2 separate regions of the Homo sapiens genome follow, and region 1 is linked to region 2. The links come from fine-mapping of genetic effects on gene expression. Tissue or cell type: whole blood. Region 2 holds a variant in brackets; the other region holds the start of a gene. All regions are shown on one strand. Distances are between the middles of the regions.

Region 1 (8,059 bases), 26 kb after region 2:
CAGGCCACGTGGTCCCCAACATGCCCCTCCACGGGGCTGCTCTCGGCCACAGCAGCCCACGGCAGGGAGGGGCCGCTCACGGTGGGGAGGGGTAGCCTGCCCTGGTCCTATTCACTGGTGTTCCTCCCAGGTTCTAACTTCCTGAGCTGGGCCGGTCCAGAGAACTCCCATTCCCACGCCACCCACAGGTGCTGATGCCGCGCTGGGGTAAGCGCTGCCCAGAGCACCTTCTGCCTAAGGCTTCCTCCTTGCAGGTGGGGCTGTCTGAGGCCCGTGGTGCTGGAGGCTGCCTCAGTCACTTCAGGGCACCCCTTGCCCTTCCCTCACCTTCAGCCATCCTACTCTGGGCCACAGCACAGTCGAATGTGGCTCAGTCCCCTCCACGGAGCCACAGCTTGCCTCAGTTTCCTCCTCAAGGACTAACAGCAGGTTCATTACAGGTGGGTCAGCTCATAAAGTCCAAGGCAGATGCCTCATCGGTGATCAGGCCCCATAACTGATGTCATCGTCAAGAAATAGGCACAGGTGGCCGGGCGCGGTGGCTCACGCCTGTCATCCCAGCACTGTGGGAGGCCGAGGCGGGCGGATCACCCAAGGTCGGAGTTTGAGACCAGCCTCAACGTGGAGAAACCTTATCTCTACTAGAAATACAAAATTAGCTGGGCACGGTGGCACATGCCTGTAATCCCAGCACTTTGGGAGGCCAAGGCAGGTGGATCACCTGAGGTTGGGCGTTTGAGACCAGCCTGACCAACATGGAGAAACCCTGTCTCTACTAAAAACACAAAATTAGCCGGGCGTAGTGGCACATGCCTGTAATCCCAGCTACTTGGGAGGCTGAGGCAGGAGAATTGCTTGAACCCGGGAGGCAGAGGTTGCTGTGAGCTGAGATTGCGCCACTGCAATCCAGCCTGGGCAACAAGAGCAAAACTCCATCTCAAAAACAAAACAAAACAAAACAAAAGAAATACACACAGGCAGCCGGGTGCAGTGGCTCACGCCTGTAATCCCAGCACTTTCAGAGGCTGAGCGGGCAGATCATCTGAGGTCAGGAGTTCAAGACCAGCCTGGCCAACATGGTGAAACCCCGTCTCTACTAAAAATACAAAAAATTAGCTGGGCGTGGTGGCGGGCGCCTGTAGTCCCAGCTACTCGGGAGGCTGAGGCAGGAGAACTGCTTGAACCCGGGAGGCGGAGGTTGCAGTGAGCCGAGATGGTGCCATTGCACTCCAGCCCAGGACTCTATCTCCAAAAAAAAAAGAAAGGAAGAAAAATAAGCACAGGCATGTGTGGAGACCTGGAGGCAGGGCTGCCCCTCACGAACCATCCACAATGCCAAGGAAACCAGAAGCAAACGTCCAGCAGCAGGGAGCGCAGGGCATGTGAAACCGACACTGAGGAAACAGCCACGGGAGAGAGCACACAGGGAGAAAGGAAGGCTCGGGCACTCCCTTGCTGTGGTTCAGGCCTGTTCTACCACCCCTGGGGTCACCATCGCCCACGGACCTTCCTGCTGGGTGCCTGTAGCACGGCACCTCCTGACAGGTCAGGTTTAAGGGAAGTTTGCTGGATAACTAAAATGAGGCTGGGGGGAGGAGGGAGCAGGGAGGAGCTAGCCCACAGGAGCCAATGCAGGCCTGACCCCACTGGTGCCGGACTGACTCAGGGAGAGTCATTAGGGCTGCTTTCTCAGGCTGGATGAGCACTGGGGGTTGGGGGCTTGCCCTGGCCCACCCCACCACTCAGGAAACCTTCCCTCAGCAGGACCTGCCCTGCACAGATCATGGGCAGCCTCCCTCTGCTCCCCACTTCCACAGCCCCAGACTCCATCTCAACCGCAGCCAGGAGTCACTGCTAACACCACAAAGGACCTGTTCCTGCACCAGCACGGGCCAGCTCTGGGGGCAGGTGCCCAGGACAGAGTCACGAGTGGCAAGCAGACAATAAACAACAGGCAAGATGGACAGACTGATTGCCGGGAGGATGTGGCAGGAGGCACTGGAACGGTGGTGGAGGAACCCCAGCCCTGGGGACAGACCTCCACCCGTGCACAGACCTCCAAGCTGGAGCCTGCTCTGGAACACTAAGGGCAGCAGCAGAGGTTGAAGAGGGGCAGACGCAGGAACGTTGGGGACACGCTCGGGGAACAGTGAGAAAAGCCCTAGGCTGGGGCAGAGGAAGTCCTCGATGGCACAAGCATCAGGACACAAAGTGCAAGAAATGTGCCTAAGACAAGAGGCAGTTCCAGGGCAGACCGGGGCCCCTGGAGAAGGGTGCTGCAATCTATCCTCACTGCCTGGAGCTTCCCTCCTGTCCCTTGGTAACCACACCAAAGAAAGATAACAACAGTCTCTGCCTCGTGGGACACAGCGAGGGCCACCGTGCCCAGCCCACCGTCTGTGCACAGGGCAGGCCCAGATGGCTGCTGCCACCAACCTGTGTCATCCAGGAGTGCCTTTCTCAAGAGCTCTCAGTGCTTATCTAGCGTTGGCCTGCCCCACCTCGGGTTAAATCAAAACCTCTTTGGTGGCTGGGCGCGGTGGCTCACGCCTGTAATCCCACGGAGGCCGAGGCGGGCAGATCACCTGAGGTCAGGAGTTGGAGACCAGCCTGGACAACCTGACAAAATACCTCTCTACTAAAAATACAAAAAAAAATTAGCCGGGCGTGGTGGCGCACACCTGTAATTCCAGCTACTCGGGAGGCTGAGGCAGGAGAATTGCTTGAACTGAGCTCGGGAAAGGGAGGTTGCAGTGAGCCGAGATCGAGCCACTGCACTCCAGCCTGGGCGACAGAGTGAGACTCCATCTCAAAACAAAAAAACAACGCCTCTTTGGAACCAGCAGAGGAACAGACTCAGGCCCTATTAGACTCCAGCCATGCAAAGTTCCTAGTCACTGCCCACTGGGAGGGTGTGGACCTGAAGGGACGCAGGGCCAGGGGAAAGCTCTTTCTGCTCAGCAGCTCCTGGAGAGGAGCGACCCTGTGCCGGGACACCCTTCCCCCTGCGGCATCCAGCGCAGCCCATCTCTGAGGGAGTCCTGGCTCACAGCGTTTCTGACAGGAGTCACAGCCTGAACCCAGGCAAGAGGCGCCTGAGTGGGAACAACCCCTTCCTGGGGACCCCGCGGGCTCCCCAAGGGACACTTCAGACCCGGAAGGGAGGGGCAGCGCCCAGAGCGCCCTCTTGCAGCCCCGGGCACTGCGTGGCCACCGCCCCCTGACGGCCACGGCCCCAAAGGCGCCGCGCAGGGCCCGGCTCCCAGAGGGGCCACTCGGGGTGACGAACCGGGGTGGGGGCGGGTTCCTCCCGCTGCACCCCCACAACTTCCCCACTTCATGCTCTTGCAAAGCCCCCGCAGAGGCTCGAAGGTGCCACGCGCGTGCGAGGCAATCCGAAGGCACCGTGCGCCGCAGCACCTCCAAATCCTAAGCCCTGGCCTCGCGGGTCGGGCAGGGCCACACCCCGAGCCGACAACATAGACCAACTCGCACAGTCGAGCAGGCACACAGCCCGCCGGGCGCTCGAGGCCGAGGGCCCCACCCACCGGGGGCAGAGACCAAGGTCAACGCTGGGGGTGCGCACCCGGACTCCTTCCCCGAGCCCCGAGGAGCCTGCCGGCTTGGGCCAGGTCCGTCCTCCCGGCCGCTTCAAGCCCGCGGGGTTCCACCCGGCACGTGGGAGAACGGGGCGCCGCCGCCTGGCCTCCGGGAGTGGGGGACTTGGGCTCGCGGCGGGGACGGACCACCCGCCCAGCTCGGCCGGATCTGCAGCCCCTTCCCGCTCGCCAGTGGAGTGGAGGCGAGGCCCACGCCTACCGGTCCTCGCACGCGGTCTCGCTTTTCTCAGCCTGCCGGCCTGGTGTGTCTCGGGCCGTAGGTGGCGACGTGGGCGAAGGATCAGCGTCCGCGCGGGCCGGGGGCGCAGCCATGGCGCTCGGAGGCCTCTTTGCGGGCCTGGCCGGGCGGCGCGCATGGGCCGCCGGGAGCTGGCGGGTCCCTCTCTTGCCCACCGCGGACTACAAGCCCCACAAGGCCGCGCGTCGCGGACTACAAGCCCCACAAGGCCGCGCGTCGCGGACTACAAGCCCCACAAGGCCGCGCGTCGCGGACTACAAGCCCCACAAGGCCGCGCGTCGCGGACTACAAGCCCCACAAGGCCGCGCGGCGGGCATGGGGGACCCGTAGTTCGGCAGCCTCCGCCACGTGCCTGGAGGGCCCCGCCCCCTGTTTTTCACCACAAACTGAGCCGCACAAAAACCCTGGAAAAAAATCAATAAACATTTATTTGATACAGTCATTTTAATACATACAGTGATGGCCCGTCCCCACGCCACTCGGGACCAGGGCGCGGGGCGGGGACGAGGACCGGGGACAGATGGTCACAAGGCGGGCGGGGCCCGAACTCACCGTTGAAACATCTCGCAAATAAACACTTTGTAGATAGAATATATATGTATATATATATGGTTACAAGTGATAGCTGGAACCTCTTTCAAAATGCACTTATGTACTGAGAACTGGCATTAAAAAACCCAAACCAAGAAACCCAAAGCACGGGACGCCCGGCCGCGAGGCAGGGGAAAGCCTGGGGCCCCAGACCCGGGCCTGGGGGAGCCGCCTGGGGCCCCGCCAAACGCGGCACACGGGGACGGCCCCTCCCGGGGTCAGGCTCACTGGCTCCTTCCCTTCAGCGCCACCAGGCAGGAGGGCCAACGGTCACACAGGAGGCACCCTCACCTGCCTTTGCACCAGCAAATAAAGTGCATCCCATTTTCGTGTGAGCGTCGGCCCGGTGAGTCAGCCCTTCCGGGCCCTTTCCTGTTCTCAGGGCAGGGGGCGTGCGCTGAGCCAGAGGTAGATCTGCAGAAAGGGCCCCGACTGGGCCTCGGGCAGGGCCGGCGCCCACCACACTCTGGGGGTCAGCTATGCTGGTCCCTCTCACTGAGGGCTCCTGGAGGCCTATGTGGGCCAGCGTAGGGAGTGGGCAGACCCTGCTGAGCTCCACCCAGGGCCCCACCCCTTGGGAGGAGGGCTCTGCGGACCAGCATGTGGCAGAGGGAGGGCAGAAAGGAGGGGGTCAGACCCAACAGCCACTTCTGGCAGTAGCCCCCACGCCTACCTTAAAGACAAAGGGGGTTAAAGTGCTAAACATCAAGGTATCCAGGACTCCTCTTCCCACACCAGGGATTATCTGTGGGCTTTGGGAGTGTCCCGGAAACTCACCCCCAGCAAAAACCAGACCCTCTTCTCTTCTCCCCAAGGGCCAAGTACCTGAGAGGCTGGGGCAGGCACCACACCCTGCAGGTGTTCAGGTCCACCCTCCTCCCGCCATTGGTGGCAAGGACAAAGTGCACCTAGGCCCCCGCCCAGTGCCTGCTCCCCTCCCCTCCCCTCCCCTCCCCTCATGAGGCTGCCCCAGCAGCAGCTGCCAGACCCCACCCTCCACCTCCGGCTCCTCCAGCTCCACCAGTGAAGCTCTGGGACACAGGAAGGAATGCCTCCCCCGACCCTCTGACGCTGGGTCACGCCCATCTCTGCCCCAGCCTCCATCCTCTCATCAGGCCGAGGTGTGCGTGGGTGGGGGGAGTCCGGGTCTCCACACCCACTCCCTGGCACATCTGGCAAGGGCTGCTGAGGGTTGGAGCCTTCTGGCCCAAGGATGAAGCCAGAGACAGGAAGTGTTCTGCAACCCCAGTCCCCAAAGTGCTCCTGGAACTTGTCTCCCTACTACTGCAGGCCAAGCCCAGTGGGGCCCCTTCTCCCTGGGGAATGGGGGAGGGTGGGTGCTGGGGGCAGAGGCAGTGCCCAGTCAGTACTGCCTCCCTGAGCAGCAAGGGACCCCAACCCCAGAGACCCACGCCCTGGTCCAGCCCAGCCCCCAGGCCCACCGTCTGCACCAGGAAACCCTTAGCACCAAATGTCGGATTGCGAGTGTTTGTATAAAAAACAATTTAAAAAAAAGGTTGTTACTTGTCACAGCAACAAGACTGGCATCCACTACACCCAGGAGACACACGCACACGGGCAAACATCAAAATTCTCATCGTCCAGGGTCAGTGGGGCCGAGCCCTCAGCCCACTCCCACCCACCCTGGAAAATGGCCTCCCTCCAAACCTACCCCCTCTGAGCCTCATCCTCCCTGCAATGCCGTGGTTGGAAGGCAGGACCCCAGGGAGGGAGCCACAGGCTGTGGCCACCTCTTCCAGGCACCCTGGACTCCCTGCCTGACCCCTGCCCTACCTATAGACCCAGCCGTCCTCAGGGCCACAAAGGGGCAAAGACAGCTCTGGAGCTGCCATCAACCTGCTGTGACTTTGGCCAAGCCCCTCCCCTGGCTGGCCTTCAGTTCCCATATCAAATGACCACACAACCAGAAACAATGGGGGCAGGTTAAAAAAAAAAGTGGGGAGGGGGCTCCCATGAGAGCTTGGCCACTGGGCCTACCCAGATTGGCAGACAGAAGGCTGCCTTTCCCCCAGTGGCCACTCAGAGCCAGGCCAGCTCTGCCCAGCTTCCTGCCCCACATGCCTATGGGCCCCAGCAAGACCCCAGGGCCCGAACTAGTCCGTCCCTACTCCACGAGGCTGCTCCAACCTAGGCCTGCAGTGCCAGAAGGCTGAACACTGGAGGAGAGCACACTCCAGGGGCCCCACACCCCCAGGGCTGGCAGCTGTGTTGAAGGGCATCAAGCTTCTGCTGCCCTGTAGGTACAAGAAGCAAAACCCCTCCCTTGCCCCAAGCTGGGAGAATTACAGACAGGCCTGGGGGGCAGGGCCTGAGCACAGCAGGGATCGCACTGACAAAGGAGGAGCAGGGGTGGGGGTAGTGGGCAGGCCTGGAGAGGTAGAAAACAGAAGCAAGGGGACCAAGTGGGTGGCCAAGGGCAGGCCGGAGCCTGTCAGGTCAGCATGGCAGTGGTCAGACAGGGGTCTGTCCTGGGAGGTAGCTGGGGGTGCTGGAGTTCCAGTGTTGGGTGGAGGTGAGGCCAGGATGGTGGCTGCCCGTGCCAGGTTGCTCAGGTGCCCTCACCAGCCCAGAACCACAGGTCACCAGGGATGCCTGAGCCTTGGGGTAGCCAGGGAAGGGACCCGGCAGGGCCTGAGGAAGCGGAGCCGGGGGGCCAAAGGCCATCTGCCTACTCTGCGCTGCAGCCCCTGTGGCACCAAGACCCCAGACACATTCCCATGAGGAGGGGCAACCCTCCTGGCTATTGCACTTCTGCTGGGCACACCTTGGGGAGCCCCAACCCAGGTGTGCCCTGTGGCAGCCTTAACAGGGGAAGGGCCACCTTCAGGGAAGGGAGAGTGGCTGGCTGCCCCACTGGACGGATGAAGAGGCGGGGGTGGGGGATGGAGAACTGGAGGACAGAGGTCCCGGAGCTGGCCCTGCCTTGAACAGAGGGCGGTGTGGCGGCTGCATGGGGGCCAGGCCCCACGCACCATGCTCACTTTTCAGGCGCCTTGCTGACTCCCACCTTCCGGCCGGTGGAGCCCCGGGCCCCCTTGTCTCTGCATCCTGGAGGCCAGTCGTCCCGGCGCGGGGGCAGCTTGGCCACAGGCTCCTCTGGGGTCCGCTCCTTGGGCTTTCGGCCCCGCTTCTTTCCACCTGCCAGATTTTTCTTCTTTTCCTTCTTGGGCACCAATGAGTCCTGGCTCCTGTGTTTGGGAGGTGGGTCTGCTGATGTTCGGAACCAGTTCTGGGGAGAGAAAAGCGCTGATGAAGACCTGGGACTGGATGCTGAGCACCTGAGCCAGGCATAGCCTGAGAGCTGAAGACCTGTCAGCCTTCAGGACCAGGCAAGCACCTGCAGCAGGGCTGGACACAGCCTTTAGGACCAGGCAGGCACCTGCAGCAGGGGGCTGAACACAGCCTTCGGGACCAGGCAAGCACCTGCAGGGGGCTGGACACAGCCTTCGGGACCAGGCAAGCACCTGCAGCAGGGCTGGACACAGCCTTCGGGACCAGGCAAGCACCTGCAGCAGGGCTGGACACAGCCTTCTGGACCAGGCAAGCACCTGCAGCAGGGGGCTGGACACAGCCTTCAGGACCAGGCAGG
Region 2 (10,073 bases):
CTCGCTGTGTCGCCCAGGCTGGAGTGCAGTGGTGCGATCTCTGCTCACTGCAAGCTCCGCCTTCCGGGTTAACGTCATTCTCCTGCCTCAGCCTCCCGAGTAGCTGGGACTACAGGTGCCTGCCACCACTTCCGGCTAATTTTTTTGTATTTTTATTAGAGATGGGGTTTCACTGTGTTAGCCAGGATGGTCTCAATCTCCTGATCTCGTGATCTGCCCGCCTTGGCCTCCCAAAGTGCTGGGATTACAGGCGTGAGCCACGGCGCCTGGCCTTCTGGGGATTTTTTATTACAAATATAACTTTATTAACAGATGCAGGCCTATTCAGATTTTCTATTTCATGTCAGTCTTGGTAAATTGTAATTTTCAAGATATTTGTCCATTTCATCTAATTTTTCTAATTTCTTGGCATGAAGTTGTTCGTATTTTATCCTTTTCACGCCTCTAGGATCTGTAGTGATGTCTTTCCTCATGTTGCTCAAAGAACCAACTCTTTTGGCTTTGTTGAAGTTATCTGTTTGTTTTCATGGATTTCTGTTCCTTATGATTTCCTTGCTTGCATTTATGTTGGGTTTATCCTGTTACTTTGTAGCTTCCTGAGGCGGAGCCTTAGGCCTTGATTAACGTGTTGTACTAGTCAGCATTCTGCAGAGGAACGTTGCCATTATCTGTGTCTCTTTCTAAAGGAGATTTGTTATGAGGAATTGGCCCACGTCATTATGGAGACGGAATCTCATGCTCTGCCATTTGCTGAAGATTGAGGAAAGCAGTGGGATAATAACAGTCCAAGGACAGGAGGAGACACGTGGCCCCGCTCAGGCTGGCAGGCGAGAAGGAAAACCCAGGCCAACTCCTCCTCCCACCCCTTTCTATTCGGGACCCCCGTGGACTGGGACGACACTCACCTGCACAGGGCAGCGCAGTTGGCTTCATGGAGCCCCCAGCTCAGGTGCTGCTCTTACCAAGAAACACCCTCCCAGGCACACCCTGAAGTCATGTTTCATCTGGGTGCCCCACGATGCAGCAAAGGAGACATGAAATTAACCGTCATGTACACTGTATTTATTATTCAATTCAAAACATTTTCTAAGTTCCCCTGGGATTTCTTCTTTGAGCTACATGTTAGCCGGAGGTGTGTTGTTGAATATCAAGAGTATCTTCCTCCTGGGTTTCCAGTTTGTAGCTAAGTCAGGGATAGTGCTGTGTGTGACCTCATTCCATTACGTTTATTGAAACCAGCTTGAAGCCCTAACATGTGGCTTGTCTTAGTGTACAGCATTCAGTTAAAAACAATGTGTGTTCTCTAGATGTTGGGTGTTCTGTGACTGTCACGTCATGGTGGTTGATTAGTTAGAAACAATGTAGAAACAATGTGTATTTGCCAGGCGCTGTGGCTCACACCTATAACCCCAGCACTGTGGGAGGCTGAGGCAGGCGGATCACCTGAGGTCGGGAGTTCAGCCTGAGGTCGGGAATTCAAGACCAGCCTGGCCAACATGGAGAAACCCCATCTCTACTAAAAATACCAAAATTAGCTGGGTGTGGTGGCACATGCCTGTAATCCCAGCTACTCCTGTGTGAGGCTGAGGCAGGAGCATTGCTTGAACCGGGGAGGCGGAGGTTGTGGTGAGCCGAGATCGTGCCATTGCACTCCAGCCTGGGCAACAAGAGCAAAACTGTCCCCCCCCCCAAAAAAGAAAGAAAGAAACTGTGTGTTCTCTAGATGTTGGGTGTTCTGTGAAGATCAGGTCATGGTGGTTGATAGTGTTGTTCAGAACATCGATGTTTTTCCTGATTTTTGGTCTGTTCTGTCGATTTCTGAGAAAGTATTAAAATTAAAGTTGGGTCTTGCATTTTTATCCATTCTGTCAGTCCCTTACTTTAATTGGAGTTTTTTGTCCACTAACATTGAATTTAATTGTTGATATGTTTGGATTTAGATCTTCCAACTAATTTTCTATTTGTTTCCTGTGTTGAGTTACTTTTTCATTTTTCTTGTAACTTTTTAGCTTATACCTCTTTGCATTTTTTATGCAGAGGTTGCTGTAAGGATTACAATATGCATGTTTATTTTAATTAATTAATTTATTTTGTTTATTTATATATTTGTTTTTAAGGAACAGGGTCCCTGTCTCCTGGGCTCCAGTGCAGTGGAGTGATCATAGCTCACTGCAGCCTCAAACTCCTGGGCTCAAGCGGTCCTCCCGCCTCAGCCTCCCAAAATGCTGGGACTACAGGTGTGAGCCCCTGTGCCGGCCCACAGTACACAGCTGCAGTTCTTCAGGATCTCTTGGGGTGGCCGTATTCTGCCGTCTCACACTTCTCCATGCCATGGCGTCTGTCTGTGCACGTGGCAAACTCCACAAGGCAGTGTTGGATTCTTTTGCTTTGAACGGTCTTATGGAATAAAGTCCATCAGCTCTGCCCTTGGTACTTTCATCTATACTTTGTGATACTTTCTTTTTATTTTTTCTTCTAGAATAGCCTAACATGGCAGACCAGAGACAGCGCTCACTGTCTACCTCTGGGGAGTCATTGTACCACGTCCTTGGGTTGGACAAGAACGCAACCTCAGATGACATTAAAAAGTCCTATCGGTAAGTGGACAAGTGTGGCCCCCACATCCCCCCAGGAAGACACACATGCCCCGTGTGGTTTAGTCTGCATTTTACCAAGAACCATTGCACATACTTTATCCTGGCCGACTCAGCGTTGAACTGGTCACAGCTCGGTAACACCTTTGTATGTGTAATGTGCTCCTTATAGCTTAAAGTTATGGTATTCATGTTCTCTTGCCAACAAAAAATAGCACTTAGTAGAAACTGACACACTGTCCACAGTTCCATAGGGAGTCAGGGTCTGAACCTGTTTGAGGCCTCACAGGAGCCGCAGAGCGCTGGCATGGTCCTGTGGTCTCCTTGTTTTAGCACAGTGATGACAGAGACCCCTCACTCTGTTGTGGCCTTCTGATTGAGCTTGAAGAACTGCACTCTTGGGTACAGTTTCATTGAGTAACCTGTAAGAGACACCATCACTAATCCAGACAATTCAGATAGTCCTCCTCTCGTGTGCTAGCATCGTGTAGTTCATAAAACACTTCTTAAAGTGCCATCATTACGCCCCGCCGTGCTTACCGTTCACTTGGCACTTGTGCAGTTAGCGGCTGGGACACCAGGGCTGGCCTTGGTGCCGCTGAACTTAGATGTGCCGTGGCACTCACAGCCCTTGGGGCTCCCTCCTCTGAGGCTGGGTCAGGGTGAGGAGGTTTACCTGAAACAACCGCGGAGCTTGCTTTTGTCCCTGGCCCCTGCAGCCCTGGAGAGTCGGACAGTGAGGTGGCCTGGGTGGACCTGCCTTCCACTGCACCCGGCAGTGCGTGCGGGTGGGATGGACGCGGCGGCGGGTGCGGGTGGAACAAAGTCCAGGGTAGAGCCAGGACATGGTTTTGGTTTGCAGGAAGCTTGCCTTGAAATATCACCCCGACAAGAACCCCGACAACCCGGAGGCCGCGGACAAGTTTAAGGAGATCAACAACGCGCACGCCATCCTCACGGACGCCACAAAAAGGAACATCTACGACAAGTACGGCTCGCTGGGTCTCTACGTGGCCGAGCAGTTTGGGGAAGAGAACGTGAACACCTACTTCGTGCTGTCCAGCTGGTGGGCCAAGGTGAGGGCGAGCTGCCTGCCGTGCGGGCACCCGAGTCACTCCTGCCGTGCGGGCACCCGAGTCTCTCCTGCCGTGCGGGCACCCGAGTCACTCCTGCCGTGCGGGCACCCGAGTCTCTCCTGCCGTGCGGGCACCCGAGTCTCTCCTGCCGTGCGGGCACCCGAGTCACTCCTGCCGTGCGGGCGCCCGAGTCACTCCTGCCGTGCGGGCACCCGAGTCTCTCCTGCCATGTGGGCACCCGGGTCACTCCACGCCTGCAGGGTTCCCAGCATTGCAGAGCCCATGCGTTGATGCCAGCAACTCTACACTCCTGAGAAAAGGCTTCTGGGCATATGGAGCCTTTCTCCTCACCTGTGTGATGGGCGAAGCTCTGTCACTGGCTTGGTGTCCTGCCTGGAACAAGCCATAGCGTACAGATTGTCCCAGGGAAGAGCCGTGCGGAGCCGCCAGGGTTTCTTCTGTAAATGGCTCCCAGTCCTTCGTGAGACAGGAGGAAATAAGCCTCGATGTTACATCCGCATTTCTTCGTTTCCTCGTTTTGTTCCAAATGTCATATATGAGGCCAGAGGGTTGGAATCACTGCATGGCATTTGTGAGAAGCCTGTATTTGGCTTTGACTGGTCGGCCTCCTCACTAGAATCCTTATAAAGTACTTTTTATTTAGTTAATGTTAGACAGAGTCTCGCTCTGTTGCCCAGACTGGAGTGCTGTGGTGAGATCCTGGCTCACTTTAACTTTGAATTCCTGGGTTCAAGTGATCCTCCCACTTCAGCTCCAGAACTGCAGGAGTTGAGGCGTGAACCACTGTGCCCAGCCTGGAGGCTGCTTTGTTTTTTTTTTGAGACGGAGTCTCGCTCTGTTTCCCAGGCTGGAGTGCAGTGGCGCGATCTTGGCTCACTGCAAGCTCCACCTCCCGGGTTCACGCCATTCTCCTGCCTCTGCCTCCCGAGTGGCTGGGACTACAGGTGCCCGCCACCACGTCCAGCTAATTTTTTGTATTTTTAGTAGAGACAGGGTTTCACCGTGTTAGCCAGGATGGTCTCGATCTCCTGACCTCGTGATCCGCCAGCCTCGGCCTCCTGGAGTGCTGGGATGACAGGCATGGGCCACCACGCCCGTCTTGGAGGCTGCTTTTCTTTAAGCTGCGGGTTTCTTTCTGTCTCTCCTCCTCCCTTCTTCAGTTCTTTCCTTCTGCTTCCTGTCTGGAAGGCAGTATCCCCACCTGGAACGCACCCCCTGCCTTCTGCTGAGGGCATTTGGGAGTCCTGCGCCTCCCTCTCCAGGGGCCTCGGAGGCCATGCAACACCACCTTCTTCTCCCCCCAGGCCCTGTTTGTCTTCTGCGGCCTCCTCACGTGCTGCTACTGCTGCTGCTGTCTGTGCTGCTGCTTCAACTGCTGCTGCGGGAAGTGTAAGCCCAAGGCGCCTGAAGGCGAGGAGACGGAGTTCTACGTGTCCCCCGAGGATCTGGAGGCACAGCTGCAGTCTGACGAGAGGGGTGAGTGCCCGCCCCAGGGCC[C/T]GTGTGTGTGTGTGGGGCAGAGCCAGAATGGGCCCTGAATGGTGTCAACCTGTCTTGTCAAACAGGAGGGCACTGACACTGTGCCGCGAGTGTTTGTGGTGGCAGCTGGGACTGTTGAGGTGTGAACGTGGACCCTGAGGTAAAGCAGGCGCATAGAGCTGTCCCCGCCGTGACCTGCGGTAGCCGTAGATCCCAGGGACTGCGAGGCGGGGCAGGGCGGCAGGCAGTTGGGGCGGGGCTGAGGGCCGAGGGCTGGCGGTGACCCAAGGCGACGGAGGAAAGCCGTGTGGGGTGGAGGTCAGCGAGTAGCCTCTCCCGGTGGAGAGTTTGTCCAGGTGCCCGAAAGTCGCTCCACAGGACCAGCGTTGGGTGCGCGCCAGGCTGTGGCCCTCGTGCAGTGCCCTGTGTGCTTGCTTTTCAGAGGCCACAGACACGCCGATCGTCATACAGCCGGCATCCGCCACCGAGACCACCCAGCTCACAGCCGACTCCCACCCCAGCTACCACACTGACGGGTTCAACTAAATCCAGGAGGAGCTGTGGTCAGAGGAGGAGCCGGCGCCTGGCCACGCCAACCTTAGAATCATGAACTGTAGTCACAGAGATGGGAAGGCAGCCTCCTGCCTGCCCTGGCCTTGCTGGGGCCCCTCCTGCCTCCACGCCCACCCAGCGTCGACCCTTGACCCACGAAGTGCGTAGCATGCAGTATTTAAAGCAGTGTAGCTACGGTCTTCTGTTTTTTTCCCTTTTTTAATAGCATGTATGGGGTTCTGTTCCATGTCTGTGTTGTGGACATTCCGCGGCATGACCGCGTGAACTGCACGGTGGAGCTGCCTCAGGGCTGTCGGTCAGGTTGGTCCAGTGAGGGGTGACTGCAGCCGGTCAGGTGGGCGAGGAGAAGGGGGGCTGCCCCTTTCCTACCTGTGCTTGAGGGGCCGGAGGCAGGTGCTGCCTGGCAGAGCTGTGTTACCGTCTTGGCCTCGGGGTCTGGTCCACACTCTGTGCTCCCAGCCTTGAGGCTGCAGTAGGACTCTGATCTCACCTGCCAGAAGAGAGGCGGGGCCGCGTCCTCCTGGCGTCACCGGCGTCACTGTCATTCCTTGGTGTCTGTGCTGGGCATGGTTGGCTTGGGGGTCTGTGGTTTCCTGGGCCTTGTGGCAGGGTTTCTCCCGTGGGAGAATTTGGTGTGGAAAGCATAGGAGGCCCCTTCCGAGGTTGACACCGTGTCCTCCGCGGTGTTTCTCGCCTGGTCGTCTCGTCGTGTGGACGCTGCCGTTCTGGTTCTCGGAGGTGTGTCCTTCGCCGTGTTGGGGTTATTTGTCTGTGTTCCTGCACTTTTCCCGGGCTCTGAGCTGGATTGATGGGGCCAGTCTCCCCCCTCCCATCTTGAGGTCGTTCTCCACATTCCTTCCAGCACACCTGTCCTTTCCATAGCCCTTTTTGGACCTTTAGAACCACAGATGATAGGACCAGCCCAATGAGCCACAGTCAGAGAGTAGATTGTGCATGTGTGAGCACCCAGCTACTGGGGACGGGGGCTCTCCCACGACCCCTCCTCCTGTGTTTGCCAGAGCTCCCATCTGCCCCACTCGCCTTTGCCCCGTCATCGATGATTCAGGCAGAGCCAGATTCGTTAGGTCCCTGGAGGAAGGACTGACTGGACCAGAGGGACCCTCTGGCTCAGGAGGGTTGGGTCCCTGGGAGGCCGGCAGCCAGGCCACAGAATCCACACGTGGACCATTGTGGGTCCCTGGGAGGCCGGCAGCCAGGCCACGGAATCCACACGTGGACCATTGTGGGTCCCTTGGGAGGCCAGCAGCCAGACTACGGAATCCACATGTGGACCATGGGAAGTCAGTCTCTTGCGTGTCCTAGACCTTGTGGGTGGCGCCCTGCATAGGGGAGCAGGGGGAACGGGTCTGATGTCCCTGTGCTGGCTGAGGGCTCAGAGCTGCCCGCACTCCGTAGCTCATGGGATGTGCTGGGCCTGCCTTTGGCGCCATGCTGCAGACTCCAGTGGGCCTGGTTTCTGCAGAATGTCCATGGTGGCCGCTGCAGAGTTGCAGAGGTCCCTGTAGAGATAAAGCTGAGGAGGAGGCTGTGTGTGATGGCTCTGGCTCGGACCAACCAGATGAGCCTCCTGAAGCCCCCTTCCCTGCCTGCCTGCTGACCCGTGGCCCCAGCTCACTCATTGCCCTCAGCAGCCACCCGAGGCTGTGCAGAAGGGTAGGTTCAGGTTGACCAGGAAGCTGCCAAAAGGGACATGGATATGAGGATACATCTGGACGTGCTTAGGAACAGGGTGCTGGTTGAGGGCCCCCAGCTGACCCCTACTGCAGATCCGCATGTGGACCATGAGCCGGCTGCCAGCACTAGGTCCTGGGCAGCTTTGTTTGTCCCACTTTTCTTTGTTTCTTCTCACTAAAATGATCACGAAGACCTTTGACAAGAGGAGAGATATGCACTGTGATATTAAATTAGAAATAATTTATCAAAATCAGACCTCTCCTAAAAGAATAAGAAATTCATTGTTTGGCCCATCCTGAAAGGTGAGGTGGCGAGACAGTGGGGTGCCTCCGTGCCGCTTCGTGCAGCAGCAAGTTCAGCCTGAGATGCTGGCTGTACTCAGCCTTTGCAATTTTTGTAGATGTAGCTTAGGACGTGAGTTATTTTTCCGCAGACTGGCCAAGAGCCAGGTTCTAAGCTTGGACCTAAGGTAGAAAGCTGCCCATCGGGGGCCCTAGCTCAGCCCCACCAGGCCCTCTGTTGGGCCTGCACACAGCTCTGTGGCTAGAACACTCCAAGGCCCTTCGGTACCCATCAGAGTGGGCCCCTTGCCAGGTGGCTTTTCAGTTACAGAGTCCAGTGGACCATTTTGTAGAACCATGCAGCTCCCTGCGGAAGGTGGGGTAGGGTGGGAAAGAGGAGCAGGTCTGGAGGTTTGTGGAACCCAGTCCCCTGCAGAATCTGTAAAACCTAATAAATCATGGTTGTGGCCATTCTCACGGTGGTGATTGTGATTAGACGACCCCCGGGAAGCCCAGACACTCGGGGCCTGGAGTTCCTCCCCCTGCCTGACCTAGAAGCAGAACCGTTTTCAGCGCTCTGCCCTGTTGGCTTTAAGGCTTTGTCTTAATTTAAGGAAAAAGATCCTCCCGGGTTTTATTTCTCTCTTTCTTGAGTGGACTGTTTCCCTATAATTAAAAGAGGTGGTGAGTCCTGGGGCAGCTTCCGCGCCTCCCTGTCCACGTGCTAACAGATCAGGACGCCCCCAGCACCCCTGCCTGCTTTTGCTGGTGGCAGTGACGGGACCCCGACTCCTCACTCTCGGGCCGCAGACAATGCTGTGAGCAAGTGTGGCCATGGGCACAGAATGTCCCTTTGGACGCCGCTGCTGGGGGCTGCCAGGGGCCCTCTGGGGTCGTGCTTTGAGGCCCGTCCGGTTCACGAGGGGGTCCGGGCAGCACTGACTGCTTCCGACCTGCAGGAGGCGTAGGAGCGGCCCTGCGGGCCCTTTCACGGCAGCTGCTGCTGTATAGATTTGTCTCCACTCAGTGACGTGGGATTTTTTTGTCTTCCTTTTGGCTTTATTTTTAAACTGCTTTAGATATTACTGCTCAGTGTTTGTGAACTTTCCTAGTTCTCTATGTTGTTAGTGCAGCCAGCACCCAGTGGGGACCTACTAGAAAAAGGAACTGGCATGCACACGTGCCCAGCAGGAAAAGCTTCGTCTTCACGTCGGCTGCTGCCATCCAGAAGAGGCCCTGGAGCCTCACGCCGTCGAGGCTGCTCTCAGGCGTTCTGTTCCGGGCGAGGCTTGTGCTGCAAGGAAGGGCACCAGCATGCAGGCTGCCACTGGAGGGTCCGGGTGCTGCGGGCAGAGTTCAGCGCTTGTCCACCCTCCCTTAGCTCTGACTCAGTGCATCCTACTGTGGGGACATCTCGTGAGGGGACACGAAATGACTGATCTCACCCTTTCCCAGTATTCAGAGCTGTGAACCCCTGTGGCGCAGGACTGGCCTGTGTCTGTTATTTTGGTTGTAAATCATTCTCCTGTGGAATTGGCAAAAGCTACATTTTTACTGTCCTTACCAGCAACAGTTTGCGTCGTCACATGCTGTGAGTGTGGGCTGTGGTGTGTCCGTGTGTGTACATATGTGTATATGTATATATCACGCAGCAGGAGTGTCATTCATGCTGCTGTCCCCTGGTGAAGTGACAAGTACAATTAAAGGTGGCTCTGAAATGGCCTCTGGTTTCTTGGGAGTCGGGCAGGGACCTGCAGGAGGCTTTCCCAGCAGGTGCACAGAAGGAAGCGCTGAGCCCACTGTGTGCAGAGGGTGTGTGCCCAGGGCACTGCCACGGCCCCCACCAGCATTGGCCTCTGCTCTGCAGGGTGGGGTGCCCATCCTGGGGGCTGTGTGTCATGCTCACCTGACCCAGGTGTGTGTCCCGGTGTGAAATCGAGGAGGGGACTGGAAGCCCTTCCCTGCCTTGAAACATGAAAGCTGATTTTCTGAGCAGCAGATACGGTCAGTGGCAAAGCTGCATCTGAAGGGCGGCCTGGGAAGGGGCCCTGTGCTGGCCCCGGGTCCGCCCCAGAGGAGTCCACACAGCACCACCTCCAGAAGGGGCTGGGCCCGGGGTCCTGCAGGCGGCACCTTTTGGTAGAGTTTGTTTCCCTGGAAAATGGGGAAAATGTTTCAAGCCAGGTGAGGGGGGAAGTTAACACTGAAATATGTATTGTTTTTAAAAATCAAATGCACACGCATGGAAGCTGCTTGTCCATGCACTGGTTTTGTCACTGGCGTCCTGGAATCCGACCGTGTTGGGGTGCAGGCGCTGTCAGACTCCGGCTGATCCTGGCTCGAGCACACACATCTAA

The links. PIP is the estimated chance that this variant, and not a neighbour inherited with it, causes the effect.
Region 1: it holds the start of UCKL1, and the variant in region 2 is fine-mapped to the expression of UCKL1 in whole blood (TOPMed, PIP above 0.99). The same link has a PIP of 0.9 or more in blood mononuclear cells.

Annotation. Positions count from the first base shown.
Region 1 is chr20:63,952,441-63,960,499 of GRCh38, forward strand. UCKL1 (uridine-cytidine kinase 1 like 1) reads right to left here and starts at 3,976. Exons shown (of 15, transcript NM_017859.4): 1 at 3,820-3,976. The coding sequence starts at 3,932. ZNF512B (zinc finger protein 512B) reads right to left here. Exons shown (of 17, transcript NM_020713.3): 17 at 4,264-7,699. The coding sequence ends at 7,448. UCKL1-AS1 (UCKL1 antisense RNA 1) reads left to right here and starts at 944. Exons shown (of 1, transcript NR_027287.2): 1 at 944-4,545. RefSeq lists silencers at 3,063-3,372, 3,423-3,472, 3,573-3,942, 4,533-4,742 and enhancers at 4,073-4,132, 4,162-5,049, 5,050-5,935.
Region 2 is chr20:63,925,856-63,935,928 of GRCh38, forward strand. It overlaps DNAJC5 (DnaJ heat shock protein family (Hsp40) member C5), which reads left to right. Exons shown (of 5, transcript NM_025219.3): 2 at 2,480-2,597; 3 at 3,457-3,670; 4 at 4,996-5,167; 5 at 5,610-10,073. The coding sequence starts at 2,491. The coding sequence ends at 5,713. Among named protein-coding and RNA genes, the nearest start is that of MIR1914, 11 kb to the right of the region's middle. RefSeq lists an enhancer at 6,381-6,882. The variant C/T (reference allele first, on the strand shown) is at 5,189.